6 separate regions of the Homo sapiens genome follow, and all the other regions are reported to be linked to region 5. The links are microRNA targets in miRTarBase. Many come from high-throughput screens and were not tested one by one. Region 5 holds a microRNA gene; each other region holds the end of a gene's coding sequence.
The links. Region 5 holds the annotated microRNA hsa-miR-6506-5p (ACUGGGAUGUCACUGAAUAUGGU, at 2,277-2,299, shown strand). A microRNA usually pairs through its seed, bases 2 to 8, with sites in the 3' UTR of a target mRNA and lowers its output. Matches are read on the target gene's strand: a 7mer-m8 pairs with bases 2 to 8, a 7mer-A1 pairs with bases 2 to 7 and ends in A, and an 8mer does both.

Region 1: miRTarBase lists ASB8 as a target of hsa-miR-6506-5p. Seed matches in the 3' UTR shown: 7mer-m8 at 3,030-3,036 and 7mer-m8 at 2,895-2,901.
Region 2: the mRNA of MPPE1 is a reported target of hsa-miR-6506-5p. Seed matches in the 3' UTR shown: 7mer-m8 at 1,187-1,193.
Region 3: the mRNA of TBL1XR1 is a reported target of hsa-miR-6506-5p. Seed matches in the 3' UTR shown: 7mer-A1 at 2,812-2,818.
Region 4: miRTarBase lists KCNMB1 as a target of hsa-miR-6506-5p. Seed matches in the 3' UTR shown: 7mer-m8 at 2,576-2,582 and 7mer-m8 at 1,167-1,173.
Region 6: miRTarBase lists GRM6 as a target of hsa-miR-6506-5p. Seed matches in the 3' UTR shown: 7mer-m8 at 2,631-2,637 and 7mer-m8 at 2,496-2,502.

The regions. Positions count from the first base shown.
Region 1 is chr12:48,145,901-48,149,985 of GRCh38, forward strand. ASB8 (ankyrin repeat and SOCS box containing 8) reads right to left here. Exons shown (of 4, transcript NM_024095.5): 4 at 1,889-4,085. The coding sequence ends at 3,466. It overlaps PFKM (phosphofructokinase, muscle), which reads left to right. Exons shown (of 23, transcript NM_000289.6): 23 at 1-504. Among named protein-coding and RNA genes, the nearest start is that of ASB8, 9.6 kb to the right of the region's middle.
Region 2 is chr18:11,881,061-11,885,149 of GRCh38, reverse strand. It overlaps MPPE1 (metallophosphoesterase 1), which reads left to right. Exons shown (of 11, transcript NM_023075.6): 11 at 523-2,528. The coding sequence ends at 705. It overlaps GNAL (G protein subunit alpha L), which reads right to left. Exons shown (of 12, transcript NM_182978.4): 12 at 1-4,089. The coding sequence ends at 4,015. Among named protein-coding and RNA genes, the nearest start is that of MPPE1, 25 kb to the left of the region's middle.
Region 3 is chr3:177,022,057-177,026,145 of GRCh38, forward strand. It overlaps TBL1XR1 (TBL1X/Y related 1), which reads right to left. Exons shown (of 16, transcript NM_024665.7): 16 at 1-3,468. The coding sequence ends at 3,442. Among named protein-coding and RNA genes, the nearest start is that of TBL1XR1-AS1, 13 kb to the right of the region's middle.
Region 4 is chr5:170,375,263-170,379,351 of GRCh38, forward strand. KCNMB1 (potassium calcium-activated channel subfamily M regulatory beta subunit 1) reads right to left here. Exons shown (of 4, transcript NM_004137.4): 4 at 1-3,711. The coding sequence ends at 3,442. It also overlaps a transcript of KCNIP1 not described here. Among named protein-coding and RNA genes, the nearest start is that of KCNMB1, 12 kb to the right of the region's middle.
Region 5 is chr16:15,609,282-15,613,370 of GRCh38, reverse strand. MIR6506 (microRNA 6506) reads left to right here and starts at 2,276; the gene lies at 2,276-2,341. MARF1 (meiosis regulator and mRNA stability factor 1) reads left to right here. Exons shown (of 27, transcript NM_014647.4): 17 at 594-814; 18 at 1,637-1,779; 19 at 2,263-2,396; 20 at 3,646-3,848. RefSeq lists an enhancer at 2,605-2,899.
Region 6 is chr5:178,978,270-178,982,358 of GRCh38, forward strand. It overlaps GRM6 (glutamate metabotropic receptor 6), which reads right to left. Exons shown (of 11, transcript NM_000843.4): 11 at 58-3,585. The coding sequence ends at 3,388. It also overlaps a transcript of ZNF454 not described here. Among named protein-coding and RNA genes, the nearest start is that of GRM6, 15 kb to the right of the region's middle.

The DNA of each region.
Region 1 (4,085 bases), not on the chromosome of region 5:
AACATGACTTCTGCCCCAGCTTTATCTGTCACACAAGGCTGGGCACCTCTAGTGCTACTGCTAGATATCACTTACTCAGTTAGAATTTTCCTAAAAATAAGCTTTATTTATTTCTTTGTGATAACAAAGAGTCTTGGTTCCTCTACTACTTTTACTACAGTGACAAATTGTAACTACACTAATAAATGCCAACTGGTCACTGTGCTTTTGCTTCTCCTGTTATCATCTTCCTAAGTGGAATGTAATACTGTCAGCCCCATGTATCAGACACTTGTCTGATGAAGCAGTAAAGACGTTAAGGGTATCACAGGGGGTGGAGGAAGGGATTATCTCTAGTACACTACTTGCTGGCTGTCTGAAAAATTGTCACTGCCAAACTCTAAAAACAGTTCTAAATAGTGACTGAGAAGGTTTGTTGCTGGAGTCAGGGAATAAGGCAGCCAAATACTCTTTGCACAGTTCTTTAGTGGGAAGAGAAATTAACAATAAATATCAAGCACTGTGGTAGGCATTTCATCATTGAATCCTCATAGTAGCTTTTGGAGGGCAATGGTGACAGCCTGACTTCAGAAAGGAGGACACTGGAGCTCAAGGTGATTGATTACATAATGTCTCCTTCAATATTATTCAAGTAGAACTCAAACTCAGTTCTGACTTCAAACCTCATCCTCATTCCCCATTCCTGCTTCCTTATCATGCCATATCAAATCCCCAGAGCCATAAGGCCTATGAAAACAAAGTGAAAGGGAAGGTTCAGGCATTCATTCAGAACATTTTAAATGCTAATTGCCATTGATTTATAGGTTCTCTGTCTCTTTCCTGTCTTTAATCTTAGAGCTGTTTCCTCAAGAAAATGAAGAGGGAAGGATGGCTCAGGGAAAGTTAATCAGAGGGAAAATGTCACTCTGTAAAGAGTAAAAAATTTAGGATGATGATACGATCTGGGAAAAAAAGGCATAGTGAAGACCACTTAAAAACAAACAAAAAAAACCTATGAAGGTGCATGCTATTTCCCCAGAGCTAAAAAGATAAGTGAAATTGTGTTTGAACTCTTAAGTGGAGGTGAAGCAGAATTTATTAGCCACCAACCACATAAGTGATTATGAAGTAACTGAGAAACAGGTAACATTTTTTCCCACATGGACAAAACTTTCTCTTTCTAGAATATTAAGTATCTATGATGAGAAATGAAGTAGCATCTCAAGCAGTTTATAAATCTACCAGAATATTAGAATCACCTGGGACCTTTGAACGTACTCATGCCCAGGTCTACTTTATTCATTTATTTTTTTGTAGAGATGGGGACTTCAACTCCTGGTCTCAAATGATCCTCCCACCTCGGCCTCCTAAAGTGTGAGGATTACAGGCGTGAGCCACTGTGGCCAGCCCTACTAGGTCTGCTTTGGACCAATTAAATCAATCTCTGGGGGTGGAGCCTGGGCTTTAGTATTTTTAAAAATTTTCCTAGGTGGTTCTAATTAATAACTAGGATTGAGAACCACTGACTAACACAGTGGAATCTCATTCCTGGCTATATTTGAAGCACTGAAGCCCCCAGTCCTACCCCAGAAAATTCCAAAGAATTGGTATGAGGTGAAATCTTGGCACCAGTGTTTTTAAAAAGCTTCCTTAGTGATTTTATGTGCAGCTGGAGTTGAGAACATAAAAGCAGTAATTCCAAATTTGGGGTGGGAGAAGGTATAAAGGAAGGGGAAGCTCTTCAGATACTCTGCCCAAGCCCTCCTGTTCACTCCAGCAATGCCCAGAATCACTGCTGCTAATGGGAGAAAGGTTGGGATGGAAAGTTACATAGAACAGCCAGGCAGTAAACGAAGAACTTTTTCTAAGGGGGGTTGGAGAAAAGTAGGAAAAGTAGAAATTGCCAAACTTGCTTTTAGAACTATTTATTCTTTTTTTTTAAGTGATGTTTTTTAAACACCAGCATCAATAGGACAGAAGAAGACATCTGTTTTCCAATTAGCTGTGTCAGTAGATTCCATTCATTGTTTGTAGTTCCCAATCAGCTTTAAAAAAAAAAGTTTTTCAAATTTGCATACAAGTCATCTAAAATCAATAACAACTTGATCTAATTTAGAAAAATGAAAGAGTATCGTTCACTAAAGCAGATCTCTTTTGGGTAGATGGACCATCACAAAAGGAGCTCTTACATGCTTTTCCCACTCCCATCCCAAGTCCACCCTCCCACCAATTGTATTGTATAAATCAATAAAAAGCAAAGGTTCCAGAACAACTGAAAGAAAAATAATTCCAAACTAAGCAGAGTGAACTTTCCATTGGGAATGAAGACCCATGGGAAAAGGCAGCCCAGCCCATAACTCCTCCCTGCTGGAACACACACCGTAGGTGTAGGAACTGCCTGGGAATCCCATTAGAACACACTGTTTCTCAGGAAGAGAAAAAGCTGCATTACAAGAAAAGTTCTCAGGACTTTAGGAGTTCTTAGGACTGTTATTTCAGAGCTATTTATTACTGTTATTACAGAGCTCTTGTTATTTCAGAGCTACTGTAGCCCTTGGGCACAACCAACAGAAAGAGGCAAAGACTGCTGTTTCCTTTGATGAGGGGAAAGAGGTCCAGTCCCTTCCAAATGCCCCAGGACATGGCACAGTAGGGATGTCATCCAGCCCAGTTCTGGATCTGCACCATTTGAGGTTATAGTATCTTCATCTTTGGGACACAATTGCTGTTAGCTGAAATTGTGATTTTCTTAAGTTTTTTCACAGATCAATTAAAATGGTTTTTTTTTTTTTTTTTTTTTTTTGAGACAGTTTTGCTCTTGTTGTCCAGGCTGGAGTGCAATGGCGCGATCTTGGCTCACTGCAACCTCTGCCTCACAGGTTCAAGCGATTCTTCTGTCTCAGCCTCCTGAGTAGCTGGGATTACAGGCGCATGCCACCATGCCCAGCTAATTTTTGTATTTTTAGTAGAGACGGGGTTTCATCATATTGGTCAGGCTGGGCTCGAACTCCTGACCTCAGGTGATCCACCTGCCTCAGCCTCCCAAAGTCCTGGGATTACAGACGTGAGCCACCATGGCTGGCCTAAAATGCTTTCTAGAAGGGATTCTTCTGGACCGTTAACCACGTCCCCAAAGGAAAACCACACACACATTATTTAAGTACTTTCCATCTTCCTAGAGAAATTTAGTTACACTGTTGACTCCTTCCCTAAAGGGGAGGATTGAGGGAGACCTCTTCTTTTGCAAAATGCAATATAAAAAGCCAGGTAAGCAATAAACAGAAAACAAAAGTGAGGGATTTTTTTTGTTGGGTTGTTTGGTTTGGGAAGGGGAGGTGCTATGGAGGTTATTGTTGTGACATGTTGCTTCGAAATCTATAAACCACACAACAGGAACAACTGTTTTTCTGTTTTCTGTGACAAGGAGTACTGCAGGGACAACCTCACCCAGAGCTGCCTGCACGATGGTGCAAACATCTTCTCCGGCTATTCTAAAAGTAACAGGTATTCCTTCAAAGAAGCTGGCAGTGGAAGGCCCTTCACTGCATCGGGGAGATACTGGAGTCCCAGGCTACGGCGCACGGCATAGCGAGCGAGTGTTTTTAGAGTTCCTGGAGCTGAGCACAGAACAGTCAGTTTTTCACATAGCTGCGGGTCTCTGGCCACCTCTCGTGGCATGGTGCCATTTTTCCTCAATTCAAAGTGTCCAACAGCTCTGTGGAGGAGCTCAAAGCAAGAGTCCTCTTTCTCTGTTCCAAGTCCCCTGACTAGCAGAGCCACCAGGCGGGAGATGGGTGTCTGGCCTATTAGGTTGATGACTCTGACCTCTGCGCCATAATCCAGAAGGATGCTGACACTCTCAAGATTTCCCTTCATGGCAGCCCAGCTGAGCGGTGTATCATTGTTGTAATCCAGGGCATTGACAGAGGCCCCGCTCTCTAGGAGAGCCCGCACACACTCAGCATTGTTCTTAAAGGCTGCCCAGTGAAGTGGGGTATCTCTGTTGCCATCCAAAGCATTGGGGTTTGCACCATACTCCAATAGGACCTCCACACAAGCCTCATCTTTCTCTGCTGCATAGTGGAGGGCTGTTCGGTTATACCCAT
Region 2 (4,089 bases), not on the chromosome of region 5:
ACATTTTCAAATTCAAAGTAAATGAAAACATTTGCCACTGTTGTTCCACATAAAAGTATCTGCAAAGAAAAGCCCATGGAGACGACCTGGACACATGTATTTCTAGGGAACAGATGCTTAGTTGAGCATCAAGGGGCAGGAAGACACCTTTCCCTCCTTGTTCCTCGCTGACCGATGACCCTGGAACTCCACGGTGCCTCTCTGAATCTCTGTTATGGATCCCCCACTATATTTGATGGGAACCCAGTGAGCCAGGGGCCAGTTTTGACAGGTCAGTGTCCCAGACATTTTCCACTCAGGCACACTTGGGCCTTACTTGTCTCTCCTGCTGGAGCCTGGGCTGGTCGGGGGTGAGCTGTGCAGGGAGAAGGCTGGGCCCCCTTGGTCTCAGGTGAGGAGGGCCCGTTCCCTGCCTCACCTGAGGGGGACCTGAGAAGGCAGTCTTCCCTCTGCTGTTTCTAAGACTGCGGTGTTCAACGTGTGCCTGGTGCTCTCAGCATAACTTTCCCTTCTCCTTTCCAGGGTAGCATCACGCCCACAGACTACACCCTCTCCAAGTGCTACCTCCCACGTGAGGATGTGGTTTTGATCATCTACTGTGGAGTGGTGGGCTTCCTTGTGGTCCTCACACTCACTCACTTTGGGCTTCTAGCCTCACCTTTTCTTTCTGGTTTGAACTTGCTCGGAAAGCGTAAGACAAGATGAAGAGCAGGCGCCATTATAAATATCAAAGCCCAAGAAATGGAACTTTGGGCAGAGATCATGTTAGAATCAAGTGGATGATGAGACCAATTACAGGCCGTCTCTCTGCACAGCACAGAAATTCTCAATCACTGAAATGAGTAACTGCAAAATAAATAGTTGATTGTACTGTTCTCATGCTATAAAAGTGGACAGGTACTCTACAACAAATCTGTTTTCTCATTTTTATCAAATATATGTATCATCAAAGGTTGCATCTGTACAGTATGTAAATGCTATTAATGTCGTCACTCACATGCACGACAGTCCTTGTTCCCCCAGGAAGGGCCTGGTGGCCCCAGCACACACTTGGGATTATGTGTATACATAAATAAATATTGGGCTGTTTCCCTCTTCCTGTGAAGTGGTTCTCAAATTCCTATGTACTGTAAAGCTGTACCCTTAAAAGTACAGATGTGGCCGGGCACAGTGGCTCACACCTGTAATCCCAGCACTTTGGGAGGCTGAGGCGGGTGGATCACTTGAGGTCAGGAGTTCAAGACCAGCCTGGCCAACATGGTGAAACCTCGTCTCCGCTAGAAATACAAAAATTAGCCAAGCATGGTAGCAAGTGCCTATAATACCAGCTGAGGCTGAGGCAGGAGAATCCCTTGAGCCCGGGAGGCGGAGGTTGCAGTGAGCCAAGATCATGCCACTGCACTCCAGCCTGGGCAACAGAGTGAGACTCCGTCTCAAAAAATATATTTAAAAAAAAAAAAGTACAGATGTGATGTGCAGAACATATTGTTTTCGTAGATTTTTATACTTGATCAATTAATGGAATCAGATTTTTAGATAAGTGTAATTTTCTCTATAGGAGACCACGTTGCTACATCTGTTAATGCCTGTCAGTGATCAAAAGAAACTTAAAAAGTGGAATGGGATATGGCTTTTGGTACCTGAAAATAAATGCTTTAATAATTGTAAGCCAGATAAAAGTTATTCTTTTTGTTTTTTTTCTTAACAGTCTGGCTGTTGTTTGAATTAAACTCTTAAACAGGATGTTTAGTTAGAGGGTAATTGTTGAGTAATGATGCATACAACAGCATACTTCCCTTTCTTGCTGGGGGTGCAGCTTTTCAGTTTTCTTGTTTTACTTTGACAGTGCAAGGGGAACTGAAAATAATTTCCATTGTATTATTTATCTTAGTTCAGCTGAGGGCTTTATGAGACAGTGGATGGGGAGGCAGTAAGACGGTGATGAGATAAAATGTGTGTGTTGCACTGACTGTCTATAAAGTTATCCTTTCTTCATGAAAAAGTAGCATTTAAATCTGGATGAGTTTATAAAGGATTACAAAATGCTGATTTATAGAGTAAACTTTAAAATATTAAAGACTAAAGACTAAAAGAAGAGTAATAATGAAGTAATGTAGGCTGTCACTTCTCTAGATTTGTATTGTTGAAAATTTAACTTTGGACATCTTTATAGATTATTATTTTAGACCTACAAAAACTACCCTCAACTCTGTGGCTACAGCTAGAATATGAAGCATCATTGCTACACCAGTTCTTACTTTCTAGATATTGTTGGTGTGTCATAATGTTTGAGGCTGTATTTGTAAGTCTTGCAAGTGTGAGAAAGAGCCGTATCTTTTGACTTTATACTTCAGATTAAGGTTTTGTAATGTTTCTTCTTCAAAAGGCAAGTGAAGCTGTCATCCTCATTCTCCTAGGCCAGACACAAACATTGACACGTCAAGGTTTTTTTTTTTTTTTTTTTTGGCCTGAGTCTCACTTTGATGTCCAGGCTGGAGTGCGATGGCACGACCTCGGCTCACTGCAATCTCCACCTCCCAGGTTCAAGAGATTCTCCTGCCTCAGCCTCTCGAGTAGCTGAGATTACAGGTGCCCGCCACCACGCCTGGCTAATTTTTGTATTTTTGGTAGAGACAGGGTTTCGCCATGTTAGCCAGGATGGTCTTGATCTCCTGGCCTCGTGATCCGCCTGCCTCGGCCTCCCAAAGTGCTGGGATTACAGGCGTGAGCCACCGCGCCTGGCCACATTTTGTTTTTCTCTTACTGTTTGCTTACTTGTATGACGTAGCCTGTGTCCAAAGTTTTGACTAAGGGAATGATGGACCTGTTCCCACTTGGGGAACTTGAAGAAGTGTTTCATTAGCAGACTAATGAGGAAACATATTGTCTAGAGAGAGAGAAAAAAATCCCTGGTTCCCTGAAAAGATTAGATTGCAATTTGTACCCCTGAATTGAGTTCAGGTTTTTACAGCTCAGAGAAGTAACAGCAGGTGGTTGCAACAGCTTGTGATGTTGGTACATTGTCGATAGAATGTGGATGATTAACGTGTATAACTTACAATTTTTTAAATCAGGGAGTATTTTATAAAGTGCCAACCTGATAAAATATCCTAAATTCTACAGCTACCATTCATTCCTTTTTTCAGAGTAAGCAGCAGGTAATGTTGACATTAAGCTCTTCAGCACAATACAAACACATTTCATGTACAGGTATAGATAGCCATGGTGAAGGCACAAAGATCTACAAGGATTTTTCTTTAGTAGTTATACAAAAGAATATTACATTTTGTGGTCTGTACAGTGTAATAAACCAGCAATAGGGACAACAACAAAGAGAATCTAAGAAAGAAGACTATGCCTAAGTATAGGGAAAGTTTAGAGAATCATTTTTAGACAGGACACATTTTGCAGTAGTGAATGTGGTAGGTTTTCTGCCTAAGAGGCTCAAAGTAGCTCTAATTCAAATGCCTGAGGCCAGCAGCGACTCTGAATGTGACTGTAAAAGGGTTTCTGGTCACTCTGTCGCTTGGGGTCGACTCCAAGTCTTGGGCTAAGGCCAATGGGAAGGGACCATCTCTCGTCAGCCTGCAGCTTCATAAAGGGAGAATCAGAGACGGCCGTGGCTCAGGGCACTGCACGAACGCTCTTGCAGTCACGGTTGATAACGTGGAAAAAAAAACCAACTGTGTTTTCTCCCCATCTACCAAGTTCTCCTCGATGAATCAATAAAGGGAGAATGAATAATGGGGCTCCCACCCGGAGAGATTCTGCTGCAGTGTCGGCAATGAGAGTCGGTGGTTTGGGGGTGGGATGCTGCGGGAGGCCGTATTCAATGACAACAGAAGCTACACAACCAAACCTGAGGGGACAGAGGTAGCCAGAGGCTTGGTGGTCGACACAGAACGGGACAGACGGCAGCGAGATGGAACTAGAGACTCTGCCTCCTACCATGGCATGGGGCTGGCAGTCAGGCAGTCCGGGGCGCCGCTCCGTCGCAGGGTGGCGGCAGCATCCTCACAAGAGCTCATACTGCTTGAGGTGCATCCGCTGGATGATGTCGCGGCAGTCGTTGAACACCCTGCGGATGTT
Region 3 (4,089 bases), not on the chromosome of region 5:
TACATAAACAGATAGCTCCTTAAAAATAGTACTCTCTCATTAAATCTAATTTGACAGAAAGAAGTTTAAGGGAAAAAGGAGTGCTTTGTAAGTGAAAAAGTACAAATCTTTGGCCTTTCTCTTGACATTTTCGTATGTCAAAAAGCAAAAAACCTTCATGTATTTCAATCTAGTGATTACTTTTTGCACCATAATTTGTTTTTTACACCACAAAAGGAGGCACTTTCAGTATCTGTAAAAGGTATTTAATCCTAAAACATACTTACCTAGAGAATAATTAAAACAGAATTCAATACAATCTAGTATCTATTAGGAAATTAAGAGTTATCACTTCTAAAAGTCATTTGAAAGTCAATGATGTTATCTGGTCAATGGCAGGAAATGGGAACTGGAACAAATATAAGAACTTATGGGATTTCCTACACGGAGACAAAAAAAGATATTCCTTTATGTTGTTTAAAAGTGGCAGCTGCTCTTTCTTTATTCCATTTTAATCAATGAGTATTGATTCAAGTTTTCCTTTCTATTTTTCCTTATGATAAGTTTCTTACAGTAGCTTATACAACAACAAATAGCATAGAAAAACTACTGGATTCAATTGATCATCAGGAATAAGTTCTCAGAAAAACACAGGCGGAAAAATAAGCAAGAATCCCAAATACAGAACTTTACAAGCTGTGAAACTTGGTCTCTTGCAATCATGTTACTGCTCAAATTAGAGACAATCTTATTGCTGTCTATTGGAGCAGCATCGTGGCACATCAGCAGGCAATGATGATGTTGAGAACAGCAGCAAAAATAAACAATCGTATGCTCATGAAGAACCCAAGCCTACAAAATGGATACCTTTCAGAAAAGTATATACTTAAAAGACCCAAGACGTCAGGATAATAAAGCTCTGTATTTATAATCTTTTATATGTCCTATTGTGGCTATTATGCTTAAGTAAAATAGCTAAAGAAAAAAAAGAAAAAAAAAACAGAAAAGATGACAATATCATAAAAATGTAGCTGTCTATTTTGGCAGCTATATTGCAGAATTTCTTGACTATCTTTTAATCAGCTGGGAAAAAGTCAATAACTGTATGCAAATGAATAAACTGTCCATATCAAAATACAAAAGTACTATCAATAATCACCTCTGACTTTCAGATTTAAATTCAGTGCAATTGACAAATGCATCACTAAAGGAAAATGCAGCTTAAAAGATACTCAAAACATTTGTGTCTATTCCTGGGAGCACATTTTAAAATTATTGCACAGATTTTTTTAATTTTTATTTATTTTTTTTAAACAATAACAGAGGTCAACCACAGATGTGGACCTCCAGCAATAAAAGCAGGAATTCAAGTGCCAGATACTCAGCATATTAGGTTTCCTACGTAAGTCACAGGGTAATATGTTCTAAATATCTCTAATGTGATCCAAAACCCTAAAAAGAGCTGGCACAAAACCATCGTGAATGACTGCCTCTCTTGATGTAAATTTTTAAAAATATTATTACAGTATCATAGTCCCCACTAACAACAACTGGGGTACATATAACAATGTATTGTGAAATTAAGTGTATTTATTCTCTTTACCAATAGCAAATGCTACCCTACCTTAGTAAAACCAAGACTTGCTTCAATCAATGCTGTTTTGTAAAAATAGCAAAGCAACGAATGCTGAAATCAATCAAAGCTGCATTACTTGGGTTAAATCAGTTTCTACTTAGAACACAGGTTAAAATTTTAGTACTAAAAGGCCTCAAAATAATTAGTGACAGAAATAGTGTTATTAATTTGCTAAGCTCAACAATAAGCAATTCCTTAATTAAAATCTTCGAGATATAAATTTGATGACTATTCTCTTCAGAAATGACATACCTGGATTATGTTAATCATGACAAGCCTTATTAGTCACACATATAAACATGGCCTCATGCAATCATTTGTCTGTATATGTTACTCTAAGTTGCATGAGCACAAGGTTTAATATCTATATCTTTAAGAAAATACTTGATATTATAAACAGAGTAAAAGACATGATATAGTAGTGATTACTAAAAAAAAAAAAATTAGCAGCTTAAATCTATCTATATTTGAAAAAACGTAGTCACAAGTACCACAAATGCAGAATCAGAGCAGCAGGAAGAAGGTTAGTGCAATTATACTTTCATTAAAAAAAATTCTGAATCACTGCTATTTAAAAACACCTTGAAGCAAGTCTTTTGTTTGAGATTGTTTTTTAAACTAAGGTAGCAAACATTTTGCCATGTAATGGCAGTGTTATATGCCGTTATCTTGCTTTGTATAAAGAAAACAACATGAGAGATTTTTAATACTGGAGTTTGGTTACATTACATATTTAAGCTTCTACACAGAATGATGGACACTTCGAGAAGCTAATCCTTATCCAGAAACATTTTAATCTCTTAAAAAACAAAGCAAAACAAACAAACAACAAAAAACCCAAAACTACGTTGCTCCTTTTCACAATAGTGCACATTTTTACCATAATTTAGTTATGGCTACAAAACATCAGAAGATTTTTTTTAATGTATCTTCTCTATGGTAATTAAAAAAAAAGTTGTGCCCTTCTAGTCTTTAATTGGCAGAAATATGTCCCAAAAAAGAAACTATTGCATTTAAGCCACATCACCAAAAAACAAAAAAGAAAAAAAAAAAAAAAAAGCAAAACAAAAAAACAAAACCAACAGAGCATAATACCCTTTTACTGATGTGTCTTACAGATTGACATGACCAAAGTCATAGGTTTTCATTTAATTTCCAATTCCCCCTTCCACAACATGCACCAACTGAATATATGCTCTGGGAGCCATAAAATGTACCAAACATCTACCTCTTCAAAAGAATGCATTAAAATATTTTAAAGAATTTTTTGTTTAAAAGGTGAAAAAAATATAAACAAGAAACTGATTCACTCCCTTACTTCATGCATCCATAATCTAAACCAAAAACGAAATTTTAAAGCAAGAACAAACTACTGCTGCAAGTTTTTGTAAGTCCATTTTCTCTGTACATACAAACTGCTCACTACTGAAGGGAAAAAAAGAATATAATCCATGGTGTCTGCTGATTCAAAGGGGAGAAACAAGGCTGTCATTTAGTATCCAAAAACTGGTACATGTATGTTCTGCTTTTATAATGTATATTTTTCTCTCTTCTGTTTTTCATATCCAAAACTTCTAAATGCTATTTTAGGGGCACAGCAGATTAGATTCCAGCACTTGGTGAACAGAATTCACAAGCTGTGACAAAACTCTGTCATCTTCAGGGTGCAATTTTGTTTATATACACTGTATGTATATATTTCTTTTAGATTTGGCTGTAGTGGACTGGCCATGGTTCAAGTGGGACTATAGCAGTACATGGGTCAGGGACAGTCATTTTGGCTATGTACACATTCATAGTCGGTCCATGGCTTCCAACTAGTAGCGCTATTTCCGAAGGTCTAATACACAAACCTGTAAGAAATTAAAATAATCAACCAGTGTATTCAGAATTTTATTGTACATTTTATGTTTAACTTTTCTATAGTACAATTTGAAATGTTTCTTAGTTCCAAGTTTATAAAATTGGTAAAGCATAATAATCATGGAAATGAGCACTTAACTGACAGAAATCAGACAGATCATTTAAGCAGATCAAGAGAACAACCATGAGCTCAAACTGTGGGGGAAGAACCACGGCTAGGATTTTTATACTCTCTGTTGATTAAAAAGGAGGGGGAAAATGCTCAAAACAGACCATTTCCTATCTATTGGACCCTAATGAAAGATATCACAGATTATATTCAGCTACAGCATCAGTAAATAGCTACCCTTTTCCCACCTTCTGGTGCTTCTACAGCTTTGGAAGCCATATTTGCATTGTTGTAAAGAGTTGGCTAACCTCATCCTGAAAATCTTTCAGTATCACACATTCCTCAACACAGGAACCAACTGCCTCTAGTTCTGCCTTCCCTGGGCCAAAAAAATTCTTCTGTGAAGAGGAGAAGGTAGAAATACACATTAAACATTTCAATCCTTCTCAGAATGTTCCTCTGGTATACCTAATTTCATAAATGAAGGTTCATATTAAAAATA
Region 4 (4,089 bases), not on the chromosome of region 5:
TAAAAGACTCACATGAGGACCTTTGAGACTTCCCTGACCCCAGAAGGAAAAAATTCCAGGGAATGATGAGCTGCCTGCCTTTGGAAGGAAGGTCCACCAGGTAAGAAACTGGAGGCCACAGGGATACCTCTGGGCTCCCTGGCTGGAATTGGCAGATGCTGGTGCAGATGCCAGGGCCTCCCCTCAGAACTCCAACCTGCATGAGGGCACCTGGGTTCCAGGGATGCAACGCAGCTCCCTGCCTGGCCCCTGTGGCTTTGAGTGGCTGTGTCCCTCAGCCCTTCACAGCTGGCTCTGCCCCTCAGCCCTTCACAGCTGGCTCTGCCCCTCAGCCCTTCACAGCTGGCTCTGTCCCTCAGCCCTTCACAGCTGGCTCTGCTGAGTTCTGTGGTTGAGATGCCAGGTACTGGAACACACAGCTCCAGGCTTGAGTCCTAGCCCCTCACTTTACAGATGGCCTTGGCCAGTTACCTCTTACAGCCTCAGTTTTTCATAGTAACTTAGATAGCACTTACCATATGTCACTATCCTAGGAAATTTACATAAAAATTTGTTTCATGCCAAAACTCTATGGAAAGATACTATTATCAGTTTCGTTTTGCAAACGAGGAAACAGGCACAGAAAGGTTATTCGTCCAAAGTCACCCAGCTTGTGAACAGCACAGCTGGAATTTGAACCCAAACAGTGCACATCCCAAGTCCACATACTTAGCCACTGTCCTCTGTTGCTTCTCATCATCTGTGAGGCAGGTTCAGGAGTATCTCATTTTTTTTTCCAAGGCAAACTAATTAGTACAGTGCCTGGCACAGAATAAATAAGCACCCATACATGCCAGATAACATTGTCAGTATAACTTCTGGAAGTTTCTGAGTATTCATGACTTATTCTTTTTTTTTTTTTTTTTTTTTTTTTTTTGAGACAGAGTCTTGCTCTGTTACCCAGGCTGGAGTGCCGTGGCGCGATCTCGGCTCACTGCAAGCTCCGCCTCCCGGGTTCACGCCATTCTTCTGCCTCAGCCTCCTGAGCAGCTGGGACTACAGGCGGCTACCACCACGCCCGGCTATGATTTTTTCTATTTTTTAGTAGAGACAGGGTTTCACCGTGTTAGCCAGGATGGTCTCGATCTCCTGACCTCGTGATCTGCCCACCTCGGCCTCCCAAAGTGCTGGGATTACAGGTGTGAGCCACCACGCCCGGCCGACTTTTTCTTGTTACTAACAATAGCTCTTTTTCCCTGATCCTCTCCCTCCTCCTACCTCCCGCCCTCCAATAGGCCTCAGTGTGTGTTGTTCCCCTCTTTGTGTCCATGTGTTTTCATCATTTAGCTCCCACTTATAAGTGAGAATATACAGTATTTAGTTTTGTGTCCCTGTGTTAGTTTGCTAAGGATAATATTTGGCCTCCAGCTCCATCCATGTCCCTGCAAAGGACATGATCTCCTTCCTTTTTATGGCTGCATAATATTCCATGACGTATACGTACCACATTTTCTTTAATAATGGGTACTAGACTTAATACCTGGGTGATGAAATAATCTGCACAACAAACTCCCTTGACACAAGTGTACCTATGTAACAAACCTGAACGTGTACCCTGCAACTTAAAATGAAAGTTAAGAAAAAAACACACACACAAAACAAACAAAAAAAACTATAGTTGCCATTTTAAACACCTATGATGTGTCAAACATTCCTTCAGCCCTCCCAACTATCCAGAAAGAGTCCTTCTTTTATAGATGAAAAAACTAAGAATCAAAGAGATGAAATCGGGCAGAGTAGAGACAGGATTCAAACCCAAGATCTGCATCTTGGACTCACAACACTGGAAGAAACTTCAGACACCAGCCTAACTTCACACCCAGCTCAGGACTGGCCCTGCCGAATGGTCACTCACCTGCTCTGAAAATCCTCGCGACAGGACGCTCACTTCCTACACCGGTAGTTCTCTGGCTCGAGGTGTGCCACAGAATCCCCTACGCATTGTTAGAACACAGAACATTGCTACCCCCACCCCGTGCAGGGCTTCTGGCGTGGTGGGGCTGGGACAGGGGCCTGAGAGTGTGCATTTCTCACAAGCTGCCACAGGATCCTGATGCTGCTGGCCCAGGGACCACACTTGGACAGTCATCGTTCTAGGAAAACTTCCTGGAGTGGGAATGGTAAAGGTGATGGCTTCTTCCCATTTTGCCCTTTTCAAATCTGAGATAGGCTTCCCCAGCAGGCTCAGTGCCAGAGTCCATACCCTCAATTTAAATAACAAATCCTCCTCTATATCATGACCTTTCCTCCAGAGGGTTGTTTTTCATTTTTTGTTTTTTGTTTTTTTTTTGAGACGGAGTCTTGTTCTATCACCAGGCTGGAGTGCAGTGGCACAATCTCGGCTCACTGCAAGCTCCGAACCCCGGGTTCACGCCATTCTCCTGCCTCAGCCTCCTGAGTAGCTGGGACCACAGGTGCCCACCACCACGCCTGGCTAATTTTTTGTATTTTTAGTAGAGACGGGGTTTCACCATGTTAGCCAGGATGGTCTTGATCTCCTGACCTCGTGATCCACCAGCCTCGGCCTCCCAAAGTGCTGGGATTACAGGAGTGAGCCACCGCGCCCGGCCCAGAGGGGTTTTTAAGATTGTGTGTTCTGAATGGCCTGTCTCTGACTGGAACCCAACTCCGTCCCCAGACCCACTTCCATCTTTTTCTGTGAGGGGGACACACTCTTTCAACTTTTCCAAAATGGCATCTACCATGGCTTTTCTGATTAAAAGCAAACGAAACACACCCTTCCTATAATCAAAAATTTAGAAAAGCAGCAAAAATAAAAAGGGGATAAGGAAGAAAACAGAAATTAACCACCATCCCACCGCTAAAATTTTGATGAGTTCTCATGTGTTTCCTTGCAGCTGATTGTTGTTTGGCATACATTTATTAATATTGGAATTAAAAATATATATGGCACTTTATATCCTAGAAAATAGTAATACTGTAAATGTGTTCTAGAAATGGGAGCTGCTGTTGCTCTTATTAGAGAATTCAAACAAAGAAGGGAGGCTCGCTGGGGACAGCTTCTGGGGGAGGATGGGTACCGCTTTGAGACAACAGGGAGAACTCAGGCACAGAGGTGACGATCATCGTTCTCTGTGGGGCACATAGTGATGCAGCCGGAAACAGGTATGAGTCAGTTGAGTGGGGACAGGTAATAGAGAGCTAGAACTGGCTGGCCTTATGGCCTCCAAGGCATTGGGGAGCCACTGTACATTCTTGAGCAGGCAATGACTTCACAAAAGGATTTCTCAAAGGTTAGTCCTGCAACAGAAGACAGCGTGGATTGGACTGGAAGAGTGGGAGGGCAGGTGGAGAAGGCATTGTGCTGCAAGTGGGGAGCAGCCCTGGGGGCCCAGCCAGTCCCCTGTGCCCTGACAAGTGGTATGGCATGGATGGATGGCTCTACTTCTGGGCCGCCAGGATGGACAGGTACTGGTTGCTCTTCACCATGGCGATAATGAGGAGGCCACCGGTCAGCAGGAAGGTGGGCCAGAAGAGGGAGAAGAGGAGGGCCTGGGGCCCGTAGAGGCGCTGGAATAGGACGCTGGTTTCGTTCCCCCGAGGTGCGGAGAAGCAGTAGAAGACCTGCTGCTCTTGGAATTTGGCTCTGACCTTCTCCACGTCGGCCCGGGCCGTCTGGTAATTGTCCACGCTGCCTGGGATGTAGGAGCACTGTGGGGAGAAACAAGAGCAGCTGTGGGCTTGGAAATCCCCATTTCTTAGCCAAGGGCTTGATATGGAGTAAAGAAAAATACCAGCTTTGTAGTCGGGCCCCTGGATTGGAGTCGGGGCTTTGGTCTAAAGCTTGGCAGGCCATGCGCTGTACAGGTCTGGAGAGCACGCTCTCATTTGTGTCTTGTGTGTGGATGGCGGTGCTGGAGCTGCTCGGGGTACAGGCTACACACCTGGGCGCAGGTCCTACCTTGGAGTCCTGGCTCTGCTTGGATTGGCTGTAGAATTTTTGGCAAATTTCTCACTCTTTCTGAGCCCTGAAGCTTCATCACTTAAATGGGTGAATATCGGTTTCAAAGGATATTATGAAAGAAGGAC
Region 5 (4,089 bases):
GCAAGCCTCTCCACCTTTCTATAAAGATTTCCGTTTGATTACTTATACCTTTTTAATAGGTATAAGCAGTCAAGATGGTGCAAAAACCTGTTCCTTACACCCTTTTATGTCATGCTAATCTTACAACATTATCACTTTCTGTGGTTTTCTGGGTAACGTTTTCAGCTCCACTATGGATTAATTTTGCTCTTCTGGGCCACCTACCTGATGACCATTTATAACTTTGTGGAAAGGTACGTTCCACATGACCAAGTTTCAGAAGGATCTTGGAAATATAACTAGTTTCTAAACTGGGAGCTTCTTGTGTACTTTGACTTCTGCTATAAATAACACTATAGTAGACTCTGCTTTACCTTGGCCGCTTAACTTTGAGGATTAGTGGGACAGCATTTGACAGCCCGTGAATAAGTTAGTTAGCTAGTTATTGGACTATGAGACCTGAATATAGAAACTGAGACGTAAAGCAGCTACTGTATTTGGTTTTGTTTGCTTCCCCATGATCGAACTCAAGCCAGGGACTGCAGGGCCATTTTCCCTTCTTTCAGCTGGTGAAATCTGTGCTTTCTGTCTTATACACGTTCTTTTTCTTCTAGACCCTTGGCTTCTGCGTTCGAAGAGTCCTGTAGGTAACCCCCAGCTGATCCAGTTCAGTAGAGAAGTGATTGACTTGCTGAAAAGCCAGCCATCTTGTGTCATACCCATCAGTCATTTCATCCCATCCTATCACCATCATTTTGCAAAGCAGTGCCGAGTGTCAGACTACGGATACTCCAAGCTGATTGAGTTATTAGAAGCAGTGCCTCATGTATTGCAGGTAAGGCGTGTCACGGGATTACTTGTTTACAGGCAGGAATGTTCCTCCATGGCTTTGGCTGCCTCCATCAAAGAAACAGTTTAATTCCTAAGAAGTCAGTTCTGGGCAGAACATCCACTAAAAACTTTCTTCAGAGGGCAGGAATAACACACACAGGCGGCTTCTCAATTTTTCAGAACGCTGCTAGTTTCCAGTTTTAGAGGAACTCCTTGGAGGACTGAGGAGTATTTTCCCTCTAAGCTCTATAGACCTTCTTCATCCCAGCACAGCTTTCTCCAGAACTGTTCATGATTACAAGGAAGCTCCCATGAATAGCCACATACTTGTATGTTGGTGCCTATGTGAGAGTCAAGGGCTTAACCTTTCTTCTAAATTTAACTAGTTGGAGACAAGTTACTGGGCTAGAGTGTAGCACTGGATCCTATGAAGACTTTTACCAGTTAACTCACAGTGTTATAACAGCTTCCCACTCACTAAAAACGGCTTGAAAAACTTGTAGACCAATTTGTCTGGACAACCAATACAGTTTTCATTTCTGTACTCACGACTTTTCTTTTCAAAAGATTACACTTTTCATTTTTATACTCAACGACTGTTTGGGAGAAGGTGTGCCAGGCCAAAAACGATAAGAGTTTCAGAAGGCCTTGGACATTTGTTCCTTTTGACCAACTACATTTTGTTGATCGACATGTGTTTCAAATTGCACACATTCTACATAAAGGGAGTCATGCTCTGAGGCTAGTAACGAGAGGGTGAGCCAGCAGCAAGGAAGTCGCTGTCTGCTGAGGTCTTATGTGTATAAATAAACTATTTGCTTTGCAGATTCTTGGAATGGGCTCCAAACGTCTGCTGACCCTTACCCACAGGGCCCAGGTGAAGCGCTTTACTCAGGATTTACTAAAACTTCTCAAATCCCAGGCCAGCAAACAGGTCATTGTGAGAGAATTCTCACAGGCTTATCACTGGTGAGTTGATGAAAAGAACAGAAATGAAAGTAAATATTTTAGGACATTTTATCTTCTGCCAAACTCTAAATAGTTATCTAGTATTTCTATTAAGCATTCTTTTGGAAAACTTGTAGTAGTTTTTTGTTTTTTTTTTTTTTTTTTTGAGACGGAGTCTCGCTCTGTCGCCCAGTGGCACGATCTTGGCTCACTGCAAGCTCCGCCTCCCGGGTTTATGCCGTTGTCCTGCCTCAGCCTCCAGAGTAGCTGGGACTACAGGCGCCCGCCACCACACCCGGCTTATTTTTTCTATTTTTTAGTAGAGACGGGGTTTCACCATGTTAGCCAGGATGGTCGCGATCTCTTGACCTCGTGATCCGTCCACCTCGGCCTCCCAAAGTGCTGGGATTACAGGCGTGAGCCCCAGCGCCCGGCCGGAAAACTTGTAGTTCTTCTACCGATGATACTACTCATTCCGTATCCACTTCCGTTGTTAAAACCTAGGTGTTTCTCAAAGGACTGGGATGTCACTGAATATGGTGTTTGTGAGTTGATTGACATCGTATCAGAGATTCCAGACACAACCATCTGCTTGTCCCAACAAGATAATGAAATGGTGATTTGTATCCCCAAAAGAGGTATGTGACTTAACATTTGCTGGAAGGATATTGTCTATCTCCTGTTATTTTAACATAGTGTGGCATGGAAGATGTGGTTTTCCCTCCCTGTCCGTGCTTCCTGAAGATTCCACAGAAAGCACAGTGTGAAAACTGCTGCTCTTTGGATTCTGTGTTCTTCAAAGTAGGTGAAGCTGTTCTCAAGAACAAAAGCAGGCTGGCTTTTTAGAATTGACTCTAAGGGGAAAAAGGGGCATCATCAGCACTTTGCTCAAATGCCTTCTGCAGCCTGGCTGTGGCTACATGAGCCTTAGTCATCCAGTTGAGAATCTGTCACCGTGCCTGTTGGCTTTGCTCTTCTGTTGAACTCTGAGCTACTTTATTTACTGTGCACACTTGAGAAGGGAAGACAACTCGAATGTTTTTTTTTCTTTTGCCTTTCAAATTTTAATAGTTGAAGTCAGAACTGCACAGGTCCAGTTACGGGTAGAAAGTACAGTATTTGAGGGATGCGAAACTCATGGATACTGGGGGCCAATTTTTCGTGTCTGCAGTTTCCGCGGGGCAGACCGCAAGACTTGAGTAGGTGCGGATTTTGGTATCCAGGCAGGGTCCTGGACCCGATCCCTTGAGAACACCAAGGGGTGACTGTATGGTCGTATCCTCCTTCTATTATCTGGTTCTTAAACGGTGCTCCTGCAGAACATTGATGTCCATGAAATCATAGAATTCCAGGGCCCATTCTCACTTAAAAATTAATAGAAACAATCTCAGCTTAAGCTTTCCCTCCTGTTTATTTTTGTTCAACTTTTGAAGCCTGATTCTCTCTTCTGCTAGCAAGTTTTAACTGAAGATCAGATGAATAAACAAAAAAAGTGGGGATATTCAGAAGCGTGATTTCATGGGAATAATTTCTAGAGTACTTGCTTAAGTACAGGGACCTGGGTGTGTGTCATGTTAATAGATATGGGGCAGGGGCTAGAAAATTGTTTCTAGCTTATAAGATGACATTGTTTCTAGCTTATAAGATGAATATATATGAATTTCATAATATAATAATATCATAACTTCCTGGTGTTCTGCCCTGGAACATGTTTGAGAACCACTTGCAAAGAGGGAAGAGTATATGTGTTTGTTTTAGGTTGTGTGTGTTTGGAAGGCAAGGATGATATCGTTTATAAATTCCCAAAAGGATTTACTCTAGTGTGGATGTTGAACACAAATGGGTAGAAAAAAACTGTGATTTTATGTTTTTTGGTTTTTTTAAAAGAACGCACTCAGGATGAAATAGAAAGGACAAAACAGTTCTCCAAGGATGTCGTTGATTTGCTGCGTCACCAACCCCATTTCCGGATGCCCTTTAATAAATTTATCCCTTCTTACCATCACCACTTTGGCCGGCAGTGCAAACTTGCGTACTATGGGTTTACCAAACTACTTGAACTTTTTGAAGCCATACCTGATACTTTACAAGTGAGTGAAGAAATTCTAATTTTATAAAGTATTTTTCTGAACAACGTATAGGAAATACTTTTTCACGTTCCAGACCTGTTTTTCTGGGAAGTAGGGAGTTACGAAAGAGGATGAAAATCTAAGCTATTCCAGTCAGAGAAGCCATATTCCTGACTCATTAGTATTTTTAGATAAATATGGCTTTTTCCTTCAATAAAGGATTATTCAAACTTGTTTTGGGGGTAATTATTGAAAAAAAGAT
Region 6 (4,089 bases), not on the chromosome of region 5:
AAGAAGTTTTATGAAACAATATCTGTATAAAGAAGCAACCGAAGACCTAAGTCAAACTTTTGGGAAAAGTTAAATTTATTGAACAGGAAGTAACTGAATAAAGTCAGTTACCTGGACTCTTTACAGTAAGCAATGAATGTAATAAATTAAAGGGAAATTTCTAAAGAGCAAAAAGGATAAGAAATGGGACAAAGCTATAATAAATGTGTCAGAAGATTCACACAAGTGAGACAGCCTAAGAAAATGGTTACTATACAGAAGCTCTTCTGTAGAAGTCTCAACACAGTGGACCACAGGTGAGACCTTATAAATAGGTGGTTAAAGCTTACATCAGAACGTAATCTTACTCTGCTTTAGAGCTCTCATCCCAGAGAGGAACACTGCAATTTTAATTGTGTAAACATGGAATAAGCCTCCAACCCAGAACTCCATTTTCACTGGAACATATAATTCATACAAATAATTCAAGGGCAACAAATGGGACAAAACCTTCGGTGCAGGTCAGCTCTCACTCGACATAAGAGAAACCACACTGGAAGAATGCCTTATAAATTCCACACATAGAAGAAAACCCACAAAACTTTATTCAGGGGTCCAAATAAATTGGACCTCAAAGAATTCAAACCCATGCATGCAAAAAAACAGGAAAATCTTTAGGGAGCTGTCAACCTCCACTGAACACCACAGAAATGATCAAAGAGGCTAGGTGCGATGGCTCACGTTTGTAATCCGAACACTTTGGGAGGTGGAGGCAGGAGGATCGCTCGAGCTCAGAAGTTCGAGACCAGCCTGGGCAACATAGTGAGACCTCGTCTCTACAAAAAATAAAACATTAGCTGGGTATGGTCGTGCGCACCAGCTACTCAGGAGGCTGAAGCGGGAGGATTGCTTGAGCCCAGGTCGAAACTTCAGTGAGCTATGATCGTGCCACTGCACTCCAGCCTAAGAAATTGAGCAAGACCCTATCTCGAAAAAATAAAATAATAACATAAAGAAATGATCACAGGCAGAAACTGTATGCACACACCGAGTGTGGAAAAGCCCTCTTGTGGAAGTCAGTTATTTGTGTACATCAGAAAATTCTGGAAGGAGAGAAACCTTGTGAAGGTACTAAATATGACAACATCTTCAGTAACAGAGGATGTCCCCCTGTACCCAGAATGGTGCATGCTGTGGAGATACCCTGCAAGTAGACCGAATGTGAGAAAGCCACAGGAGTACATGGGCCTCGCGGTGCATCAGAGTTCCTGCCAGAGAGGCCCACAGGCATGAACATGGCAGAGTGTGAAAGTCGTCTGCGGGAAGCCAGGACTCTATGCCAGAAACTTCACACTGGGGAGAAATCCTCAGTGCAATCAGTGTAGAAATGCCTCTACTAAGAACTGCTTCTGATTCTGAATCACAGAGTTCACAGTGGAGAAAACCACATGAATGTAAAACTGTGGAAAAGTTTTCAGCTAGAAGCCAGAGCGCACTGCACACCAAAGAATTCACACTGGGAGAGACATGAGAAAACAGCAAATGCAGGAAAACTTTCCCTTGGAGATCAGAGCTCACTGATCTCAGAGTTCATACAGGAGAAGAGCCCTATACAATCACGAGGGTGGAACCGCCTTTGGCAAGAAAACACGCCCCATTACCCATGAGAGAGCTGCACAGGAGAGAAACCCTATGGAATAAATAATTCTGGAAAGCATTCAGCAACAAATGAAACGTCCTAATGTGCACTATAGAGAAGCCCTAGGAACACAACAAATGTGGAGAAGGAGAGTCAGTAGCGCAACAGAAATGTTTCTCAGAGGAGAAGCTTTTAAGTTAATTACTTAAAACCTGCAGAAGCACCTAGTCCCACGGTCAAAACCAACTGCGCACCAGAGAAGCTGCATGGGAAAGTTTGTATGTTGGATAAAGTGTGGTTCACCCTCAAAACTAGCTCCAGACATCACAGACTAGAGAATGTATACTGATCTTAAACAGTGGTCAATTTAACAAATGTAAATTCTACTCCCAGGGACATAAAACTCCATAACTTAAACCAAGCTTTTTGTAAAAACTATCAGTGAAAAACAAATGTGCGTGCATCTGCAGCCCAAGCCTCTTCCTCCCCAGGCCTGGCGCTCAGCTTGCAAATGGACTTCCCAGTACCTATGAGGAATGAAGGGTTTCCATACCCGTCCTGAGCCATCCACTTGGGATTCACCCTCACCACGGCCATGACTCTCTGTCACTGCTCCCAACCTGGAGCTCCTAAACCCATCCCCAACCCGAACACAACACAAATGCACCCCTGCTCCTTGTTCTCACATCACTAACATTACACACGTGTATCTGAATTTCTTCAGGTTTGGGGGTTTTTTTGGTGTTTTTTTGTTTTGTTTTTTTGAGACAGAGTCTCGCTCTGTCACCCAGGCTGGAGTACAGTGGCACAATCACAGCTCACTGCAACCTCCACCTCCCAGGTTCAAGCGATTCTCCTGCCTCAGCCTCCCAAGTAACTGGGATTACAGGCACCCACCATCACACCTGGCTAATTTTTGTATTTTTAGTAGAGACAGGGTTTCACCACATTGGCCAGGCTGGTCTCGAACTCCGGACCTCAGGTGATCCACCTGCCTCGGCCTCCCAAAGTGCTGGGATTACAGGTGTGAGCCACCATGCCTGGCCAAGGTTGGGGTGATTTAAGGGAGTACACAGAGGGGAGGAAAACAGCTGTACTCTAAGTCTGACCTTGCCCAATCCCGGGGGGATGGGGGAAAGCCCATGGCATTGGGAATCTCATGGGGGCGCACCCCAGTTCCTCAGCTCACTCCCGCGCCCACTGCAGGCCCTTCCCATGCTCACAGGGGTCTCACCCAGGGTCTCTCCCTCCGTGCCAGAGGAATCCTACCCAGGCCTGAGTGCCTCCATCCAGATGCACAGCCCCAGGTCTCCTCTTGCTGAGACAGCTCCTCCTCCACTCCAACCCCATGTTTCATTCTGGGGTCTACACGTTCTTCCACACTGCCCAATCCCCAGGTTATGGGGGTTGACTGAGGGGAGGAAATCTCCCGCAAACCAGGCAAAGCCCAGGGCTTCATCATCCTCTTTGGACTTCGGATGAGAGAATAAGTTTAGTCCCTTTCTAGAGCTAGAACCTTCTCGGTGGCTGTTTCCCACCATGGGAAGCGAGTCTGGTCTGTGGTGAGGAAGCATGAAGCTCACATGCTGGAATCGGGGTAGAGCTGGGTCCAGTTCCTTCTCAAGGCCAGCCCCACCGACGCGGAGCATGGTCTTGGCAAACTCCCTGCCACTGACTGTTCACCGTGGACCCGGGCTCTATACAGCTTCCACCTCGAGGCAAGAGGAAGAAAGGAGAGGCAGCAAGCAGTCCCGTTCCCACCTGCCCTGCTACTTGTGGGCCTCTGCATCCTCGCCCTTGGGTGGGGCTGCCACCGTGGAGGTGGCCTTGAGGCTCCGCTTTCGCTTCTGCACATTCTGCTCTGGATGGAAGAGGATGACGTAGGTTTTGGGTACGTAGAGCATGCCGAGGGACACCGAGGCACTCAGGCTCAAGGACACGGTTAGCGTGGTTGTCTGGATGTAGATCTAGGCCATGGAAGAGGGGACCAGATGGGACTCAGCCCTGCTCTCCCTGCCCCGCTCCACACAGTCCTCACCACATACTCTGGAGCTGAGTCTGTTTCAGTTGGGGAACTGGGAATGAGCACTTAGACCAGGACAACAGTATGAGCAGGGGCCCCGCGCCTGAGGGGCTGGCAGCCTCCATGCAGCTCTGGTGTGGGCAGGAGGGAGGGGTGAGGAGGGGTTATTAACAGAGAGACACCTGGGGAAGCGGGAGCCGGGGCATGTCAGTGAATGAGCACGTTTCAAATACATACAAATGAATAAATGGGCAGAGACAAACTTCAGGAGCAGATGGGCAAATAAATGGATGACAGGTGCATAAAATATTCTGCCGCATACGTGAATAAATGATGCAGCAATGGGCTGACGCATTAATGGGTTGGCAGTTATAAAGCACATGAAGCCTGGGCGCAGTGGCTCACGCCTGTCATCCCAGCACTTTGGGAGGCCGAGGCAGATGGGTCA